2 separate regions of the Homo sapiens genome follow, and region 1 is linked to region 2. Evidence: fine-mapped expression QTL. A gene starts in region 2. The other region holds a variant in brackets. All regions are shown on one strand. Distances are from middle to middle.

Evidence for each region. PIP is the estimated chance that this variant, and not a neighbour inherited with it, causes the effect.
Region 1: its variant is the best candidate, but not a certain one, in a credible set for the expression of ESPL1 in tibial nerve (GTEx, PIP 0.68).

Annotation. Positions count from the first base shown.
Region 1 is chr12:53,286,067-53,290,446 of GRCh38, forward strand. It overlaps ESPL1 (extra spindle pole bodies like 1, separase), which reads left to right. Exons shown (of 31, transcript NM_012291.5): 18 at 1-846; 19 at 1,906-2,275; 20 at 2,472-2,633; 21 at 3,024-3,237; 22 at 3,338-3,528; 23 at 4,019-4,146; 24 at 4,281-4,380. Among named protein-coding and RNA genes, the nearest start is that of PFDN5, 7.3 kb to the right of the region's middle. The variant G/A (reference allele first, on the strand shown) is at 2,607.
Region 2 is chr12:53,266,293-53,270,672 of GRCh38, forward strand. It overlaps ESPL1 (extra spindle pole bodies like 1, separase), which reads left to right and starts at 2,007. Exons shown (of 31, transcript NM_012291.5): 1 at 2,007-2,085; 2 at 2,463-2,555; 3 at 2,732-3,793; 4 at 4,086-4,190. The coding sequence starts at 2,475. RefSeq lists enhancers at 1,944-2,313, 2,374-2,453.

The sequences.
Region 1 (4,380 bases), 20 kb after region 2:
ACTGTGGCCAAGGAGCCTGGCCCCATAGCACCTTCTACAAACTCCTCCCCAGTCTTGAAAACCAAGCCCCAGCCCATACCCAACTTCCTGTCCCATTCACCCACCTGTGACTGCTCGCTCTGCGCCAGCCCTGTCCTCACAGCAGTCTGTCTGCGCTGGGTATTGGTCACGGCAGGGGTGAGGCTGGCCATGGGCCACCAAGCCCAGGGTCTGGATCTGCTGCAGGTCGTGCTGAAGGGCTGTCCTGAAGCCGCTGAGCGCCTCACCCAAGCTCTCCAAGCTTCCCTGAATCATAAAACACCCCCCTCCTTGGTTCCAAGCCTCTTGGATGAGATCTTGGCTCAAGCATACACACTGTTGGCACTGGAGGGCCTGAACCAGCCATCAAACGAGAGCCTGCAGAAGGTTCTACAGTCAGGGCTGAAGTTTGTAGCAGCACGGATACCCCACCTAGAGCCCTGGCGAGCCAGCCTGCTCTTGATTTGGGCCCTCACAAAACTAGGTGGCCTCAGCTGCTGTACTACCCAACTTTTTGCAAGCTCCTGGGGCTGGCAGCCACCATTAATAAAAAGTGTCCCTGGCTCAGAGCCCTCTAAGACTCAGGGCCAAAAACGTTCTGGACGAGGGCGCCAAAAGTTAGCCTCTGCTCCCCTGCGCCTCAATAATACCTCTCAGAAAGGTCTGGAAGGTAGAGGACTGCCCTGCACACCTAAACCCCCAGACCGGATCAGGCAAGCTGGCCCTCATGTCCCCTTCACGGTGTTTGAGGAAGTCTGCCCTACAGAGAGCAAGCCTGAAGTACCCCAGGCCCCCAGGGTACAACAGAGAGTCCAGACGCGCCTCAAGGTGAGGTGGGACTGTTGCTAGGTGGTGGTGATGGTGTTGGATGGGGTTAGTCCTGGAGGAGAGTGTTTTATAGAGCAGGTGTCCCTGTGGAATAGCTCCCCAGGGCCTAGTGGAACTTTAATCTCCTGCTATCTGCAGTACCCCAATATCTTGCTTTTTTGTTTTTTGTTGTTTTTTTGAGAAGGAGTCTCGCTCTGTCGCCCAGGCTGGAGTGCAGTGGCGCAATCTCAGCTCACTGCAAGCTCCGCCTCTTGGGTTCACGCCATTCTCCTGCCTCAGCTTCCCGAGTAGCTGGGACTACAAGCGCCTGCCACCATGCCCAGCTAATTTTTTGTATTTTCAGTAGAGACGGGGTTTCACTGTGTTAACCAGGATGGTCTTGATCTCCTGACTTCGTGATCCACCCGCCTCGGCCTCCCAAAGTGCTGGGGATTACCGGCGTGAGCCACCATGCTCAGCCTCTTTTTTTTTTTGAGACGGACTCTCACTCTGTCGCCCAGGCTGGAGTACAATGGTGCGATCTCGGCTTACTGCAACCTCCACCTCCCGGGTTCAAGCAATTTTGCCTCAGCCTCCCGAGTAGCTGGGATTACAGGCGGGTGCCACCACACCCAGCTTATTTATGTATTTTTAGTAAAGACGGGGTTTTACCATGATGGCCAGGCTGGTCTCAAACTCCTGACCTCAGGTGATCCGCCTGCCTCAGCCTCCCAAAGTGCTGGGATTACAGACGTGAGCCACTGTGCCAGGCCAACATCTTTCACAGCAAGACCTATTTCCAAGTCTCCCTTTGTTTCAGACAGAGACATTTTCCTTAACTCTAATGTTTCTTTTACCTTTTCATCCCACCTTCTGTTCCCTCATTTTCTCCCTCCTTCCACACCCAAGAGTCGCTGCCCCTGATCTAGAGTGTTGGCTGTCATGTGAGAAGTTAGTTCTGAAATCTTCCAGGGTCCTGTGTGATGGTGCCTGATGGTGCCTCCACTACGCCACCTGCTGTCACAAGGTGTCTTGTCACTGAAGACCTCTTAGCCCTTCACCCTTTCACTCTGATCTCAGGTGAACTTCAGTGATGACAGTGACTTGGAAGACCCTGTCTCAGCTGAGGCCTGGCTGGCAGAGGAGCCTAAGAGACGGGGCACTGCTTCCCGGGGCCGGGGGCGAGCAAGGAAGGGCCTGAGCCTAAAGACGGATGCCGTGGTTGCCCCAGGTAGTGCCCCTGGGAACCCTGGCCTGAATGGCAGGAGCCGGAGGGCCAAGAAGGTGGCATCAAGACATTGTGAGGAGCGGCGTCCCCAGAGGGCCAGTGACCAGGCCAGGCCTGGCCCTGAGATCATGAGGACCATCCCTGAGGAAGAACTGACTGACAACTGGAGAAAAATGAGCTTTGAGATCCTCAGGGGCTCTGACGGGGAAGACTCAGCCTCAGGTAGGACAGCAAGGGTGAGGTGGAAGGTGCATGTTTTGGGGGTTTGTTCTGGGGCAAAGCACAAGCAGTAAGTGCTGCCAAGGAAGTACAGGAAGAATGTTCTTTTGCTGACTCTAAGGGAGTGGATTACAGAAGGAAGAACAAAGAGAATGGCAGGGGGAGGGAGCACTGTGAAAAAGGCCTGCTCTCTCCCCAGGTGGGAAGACTCCAGCTCCGGGCCCTGAGGCAGCTTCTGGAGAATGGGAGCTGCTGAGGCTGGATTCCAGCAAGAAGAAGCTGCCCAGCCCATGCCCAGACAAGGAGAGTGACAAGGACCTTGGTCCTCGGCTCC[G/A]GCTCCCCTCAGCCCCCGTAGCCACTGGTGAATATGCGACCCCTGATGTTGGTCACTTGGAGAGGGCTGAGCCTCTAGGGCTTTTGACCCCTCTGTCTTTCCAGGCTGGGTTCGGATCTGGATCCAGTAGCCTCTGAACCTGTGTTTGAACCCCAGCACTCTGTCTATGAGCTGTGTGCAGGTCACTTAACCTCTCCAAGCTTCTATTCCTTCTGTAAAAATGGGGTTTAGGGAGCATGGTGGAATAAGTTGATGCCTGTTAGTTGCATGGCACCCCACTTGGCACATTGCCCTTCATAAATGGTAGTTGCTGTTTGCCATGTGGGAGATGAGATAGGGACTGTTCCTTCTTGGAAAGTTCCTATCAACTATGAAATAAGGAATTCAGCTGTACCAAGTGTCCTGACGTTCTTCTAGGTCTTTCTACCCTGGACTCCATCTGTGACTCCCTGAGTGTTGCTTTCCGGGGCATTAGTCACTGTCCTCCTAGTGGGCTCTATGCCCACCTCTGCCGCTTCCTGGCCTTGTGCCTGGGCCACCGGGATCCTTATGCCACTGCTTTCCTTGTCACCGAGTCTGTCTCCATCACCTGTCGCCACCAGCTGCTCACCCACCTCCACAGACAGCTCAGGTGGGTGCTGACCATCCCCAAGACTCCTGCTGGGGCAGACTAGAGAGAAGGTCCAGACTTTGAAGGAATGGGACCTCACCCCTCCCCGTGTTGCTTGCAGCAAGGCCCAGAAGCACCGAGGATCACTTGAAATAGCAGACCAGCTGCAGGGGCTGAGCCTTCAGGAGATGCCTGGAGATGTCCCCCTGGCCCGCATCCAGCGCCTCTTTTCCTTCAGGGCTTTGGAATCTGGCCACTTCCCCCAGCCTGAAAAGGAGAGTTTCCAGGAGCGCCTGGCTCTGATCCCCAGTGGTATGCGGGCAGCCTTCTGGCCGGCTCCTCTGTCCTCTTCTGCATCTTCTTACTTGGGAGCTGGGTGAAGGAGTTTTAGGCATTGGTTAGTTTACATAGATTTATGACCCTTATGTCATACCTTTTCACCTGTTAGCATCTTACATCAGGAAGGTTTGTTGTTTTTTTTAAACCTCAACTTTGAATTACCAGCAAATTCAGTGTCTTTCCTCAGAGGTGAGTTCAGATGACTGGGGTCTTCTGTGCTAACATGAAACATATTCACATGATTTGAGTGCCTCACTTTGTTAGTTGCTGTGAGGGACACAAAGTACAAGTCATGGTCTCTGTGCACAGGGAGCTATTAGAGCAAGGGAGAGCACCTTGACCTCTAGTGACCAGGGAAGGCTTCTTGATGCTGGCTTGAGTGATGGATAGGAATTGAGTGCCCAAGACAGGGAAGGGAATTCCTTTAACAGCTGAATGAGTCTGGCTGTATCCTGTGTGTCAGGGGTGACTGTGTGTGTGTTGGCCCTGGCCACCCTCCAGCCCGGAACCGTGGGCAACACCCTCCTGCTGACCCGGCTGGAAAAGGACAGTCCCCCAGTCAGTGTGCAGATTCCCACTGGCCAGAACAAGGTAGGATTCCTGGGCCATGGAGCAAAGTTGGGCTGGATTGGGCTTCGGGTCAAGCTGCTCACATTCTGTGTTGAGGGAGGGAGAGATGGTGATCACGTGGACAAGCAGAGCTCTCACAGCCCCATCTCCCAAAGCTTCATCTGCGTTCAGTCCTGAATGAGTTTGATGCCATCCAGAAGGCACAGAAAGAGAACAGCAGCTGTACTGACAAGCGAGAATGGTGGACAGGGCGGC
Region 2 (4,380 bases):
ATTAGCTGGGCATGGTGATGGGTGCCTGTAATCCCAGCTACTTGGGAGGCTGAGGCAGGAGAATCACTTGAACCCGGAGGCAGAGGTTGCAGTGAGCTGAGATCACGCCATTGCACTCTAGCCTGGGTGACAAGAGCGAAACTCCGTCTCAAAAAAAAAAAAAAAAAAAGGCTGGGCATAGTGGCTCACGCCTGTAATTGTAGCACATTGAGAGGCTAAGGCCGGAGGATCACTTGAGCTCAGGAGTTCAAGACCAACCTGGGCATCATAGTGAGACCTCGTTTCTATCTTAAAAAAAGAAGAAAAAAGTAGGTATAATAAAATACGTTGGGAAAAAGTCCTAGAATGCTTGCTAAACAATAGGTAAATGAACACTGATAGCTAAGGTGTAAGCAAGAGGAATTGAGTACTGTGATGAATAATTTTCTTTTGGGTTTTTTTTGTTTGTTTGTTTGTTTTTTGGTTTTTTTTTTTTTGAGACAGAGTCGTCTCGCTCTGTAGCCCAGGCTGGAGTGCAGTGGCGCGATCTTGGCTCACTGCAAGCTCCGCTTCCCGGGTTCACGCCGTTCTCCTAGCGCAGCCTCCCGAGTAGCTGGGACTACAGGAGCCTGCAACCACGCCCGGCTAATTTTTTGTATTTTTAGTAGAGACGGGGTTTCACCATGTTGGCCAGGATTGTCTCGATCTCCTGACCTCGTGATCCGCCCGCCTCGGTCTCTCAAAGTGCTGGGATTACAGGCGTGAGCCACCGCGCCCGGCCTTTTTTTTGGTTTTCTTTTTTGAGACAGAGTCTTGCTCTGTCACCCAGACTGCAGTACAGTGGCGGGATCTCAGCTCACTGCAACCTCCGCTTCCCGGGTTCAAGCGATCCTCCCAAGTAGCTGGGACTACAGGCCCCCGATGCCACAGCAGCTAATTTTTGTATTTTTAGTAGAGATGGGGTTTCACCATGTTGGTCAGGCTGGTTCTCAAGTGATCCACCCACCTCGGCCTCCTAAAGTGCTGGGATTATAGGCGTGAGCCACCGCGCCCGGCCTTCTTTTCTTTCTTTTTACAAAAATAATCTTCCCTGCTAGATTCTCAACTCATAAAAGAGCTCTATGATGATGGAGAAGGATGAGTTATCCAGTAGAGTTCATCAGCGACAAGCTGATAACCACTTTTGAGCTGAATTCTTTGGTGGAGGAAGGAAAGAGACAGCTGAATCTGTGTTTGGGGAAGTGGTTAGTACTTAAAAACATAAGCCATTAAAGACTGTGAAATATCCCAGGGAATGAATTTCCATAGTTCTTCCTGCTACTCACAACTCCCACCCCACCCCACTACCCTCTCTCCCCCATCGAAGAGCACCAGATCTTGTCTTTCTCATACAACCAATAGAAGGAGTAAGGCTGGAAGGCAGAGAGAGAGCTGGAGGTCGCTACGGGTACTCATTGTAGTTCCCCTAGAAAACCATCTTTAAAATAATTTCGTAGGAAGTTGGGCGTGGCGGTGCACGCCCGTAGTCAGCACTTTGGGAGGCTGAGGTGGGAGGATCACTTAAGCCCGGGAGTTTGAAGCTGCAGTGAGCTGTGATCACGCCACTGCACTCCAGCCTGTGTGTCAGAGCAAGACCCTATCAAAAAAAAAATTCGTAGAAGTCTAAGCCCTTTTTTTCTAGTAACCCAAACCGCGTGAGTTCCTAAGTTCTTTTTGTTATTTCTCTTCTCTTGAAACTTAAACTCTTGCCTGAGCTCTGAAGATAAAGGAGGAAAAGGGGTGGCATTACCGATAGCGACTAAGCGACAGGTAGCTGAGAAACTGAGCTCTGACTGGAAAAAAGGGGGAAACCCGCACCCCCAAGAGGCCCTAACGCGCAGAGCAGCAAGACCCTCCGGGGCGCCGCGGGAGCGCGCAGCGCGGCGGGTAAACTACAACTCCCAGCGTGCCGCGCGCCCGGCGTTGCGCCGCGCCCGCTGATTGGCAGCCGCGGATATTTGAAAGGAGGGTCTGGCGCGGAAAACGAAGGTTACATTTTGGATCCTCGCGGAGTACTGGTCAGGCGGTTAAGTCCTGTACCTAGGAAAGAGGGCGAGCTCTGGGGCGGTAAGGCCGGAAGGGACTCGTGAGCGTGGGTACGTGCTGAAGTGAAGGGGATCCCCAGCGCTGACGCGAGGAGAGGCGTGGGTGGCTCCTGGAGGGAGTGTCGGGAGGCCTTGGGACTGCCCCGGGCCGCTGAAGGGCTGGGCCGAGGCCTCTGGGGTAGCGCGGCGAGTGGTGTGGTAGTGCGGTCGGGGATCTGCCCGGAGGAAGGAAGAGCGGAATCGTCCTTTTATAACGGGAGCACGGCGTCCTGGCGTGGGTTTTCTCCCCGATGAAATTTCTGATGTGATTCTTTGCCTCCTTCCACGACCTTCAGCCCTCTTCCCTTCCTCCAGTTAGCTTCATTAACAATCTTCTCTAATTGGTCTCCTTTTCCCTAGCTCTCCGGTGTCATGAGGAGCTTCAAAAGAGTCAACTTTGGGACTCTGCTAAGCAGCCAGAAGGAGGCTGAAGAGTTGCTGCCCGCCTTGAAGGTGGGGGTGCTGCCTGGCTCGGGATACACCTGGCTTTCCAAACTGAGCTGTTTTGTGTTTGCCTTTTGAAGAGATGGATAAGTAGGCGACCCTCTCTGAGTAACCCTATTTCTAGTTACTTTCTCTACCTCTTTCCTGCCTTTGCTAGCCCCATTCATATCTTTCTCTACTCCTAGGAGTTCCTGTCCAACCCTCCAGCTGGTTTTCCCAGCAGCCGATCTGATGCTGAGAGGAGACAAGCTTGTGATGCCATCCTGAGGGCTTGCAACCAGCAGCTGACTGCTAAGCTAGCTTGCCCTAGGCATCTGGGGAGCCTGCTGGAGCTGGCAGAGCTGGCCTGTGATGGCTACTTAGTGTCTACCCCACAGCGTCCTCCCCTCTACCTGGAACGAATTCTCTTTGTCTTACTGCGGAATGCTGCTGCACAAGGAAGCCCAGAGGCCACACTCCGCCTTGCTCAGCCCCTCCATGCCTGCTTGGTGCAGTGCTCTCGCGAGGCTGCTCCCCAGGACTATGAGGCCGTGGCTCGGGGCAGCTTTTCTCTGCTTTGGAAGGGGGCAGAAGCCCTGTTGGAACGGCGAGCTGCATTTGCAGCTCGGCTGAAGGCCTTGAGCTTCCTAGTACTCTTGGAGGATGAAAGTACCCCTTGTGAGGTTCCTCACTTTGCTTCTCCAACAGCCTGTCGAGCGGTAGCTGCCCATCAGCTATTTGATGCCAGTGGCCATGGTCTAAATGAAGCAGATGCTGATTTCCTAGATGACCTGCTCTCCAGGCACGTGATCAGAGCCTTGGTGGGTGAGAGAGGGAGCTCTTCTGGGCTTCTTTCTCCCCAGAGGGCCCTCTGCCTCTTGGAGCTCACCTTGGAACACTGCCGTCGCTTTTGCTGGAGCCGCCACCATGACAAAGCCATCAGCGCAGTGGAGAAGGCTCACAGTTACCTAAGGAACACCAATCTAGCCCCTAGCCTTCAGCTATGTCAGCTGGGGGTTAAGCTGCTGCAGGTTGGGGAGGAAGGACCTCAGGCAGTGGCCAAGCTTCTGATCAAGGCATCAGCTGTCCTGAGCAAGAGTATGGAGGCACCATCACCCCCACTTCGGGCATTGTATGAGAGCTGCCAGTTCTTCCTTTCAGGCCTGGAACGAGGCACCAAGAGGCGCTATAGACTTGATGCCATTCTGAGCCTCTTTGCTTTTCTTGGAGGGTACTGCTCTCTTCTGCAGCAGCTGCGGGATGATGGTGTGAGTTAAGGACCTGGAGGTAGGGTGGGGACGTGGTCTGTGGACTCACTACCAGCCTAGGGTATTTGGCAAGATCTGGAGGTCCTGGCTCCCTCCTTGTTAAGCTGCTCTCTGGACAGTGCCTAGCGAGCCAGCAAACAGCCTAGTCTATCCTGAGAGGGCAGTGGCCCTTCTGGATGTCCTTCCTCGTGCTCCCTGGGCTCTGTCAGCTCTCCAGGACTCCGGGTCAGTCTTCAGCTTGGAGCCCTCTTTATCTCTACTCCTCATACCAACCTTCCGCTTCCTTCCTCAGGTGTATGGGGGCTCCTCCAAGCAACAGCAGTCTTTTCTTCAGATGTACTTTCAGGGACTTCACCTCTACACTGTGGTGGTTTATGACTTTGCCCAAGGCTGTCAGGTACTGTCTGGGAATCAAGGTACCTGGACTAGGCTCATAGGGTTTGGGGTTGCTCCACTGCCCTCAAACAGCTTTGGGGTTGCTCCACTGCCCTCAAACAGCTTTGGGGTTGCTTGGCTTTGGGTGTGGAGTGCGGTGGAGGTCATCTTGGACCCAGCATGACTCCTCACTCTCAAACCCTTCTTGTCCC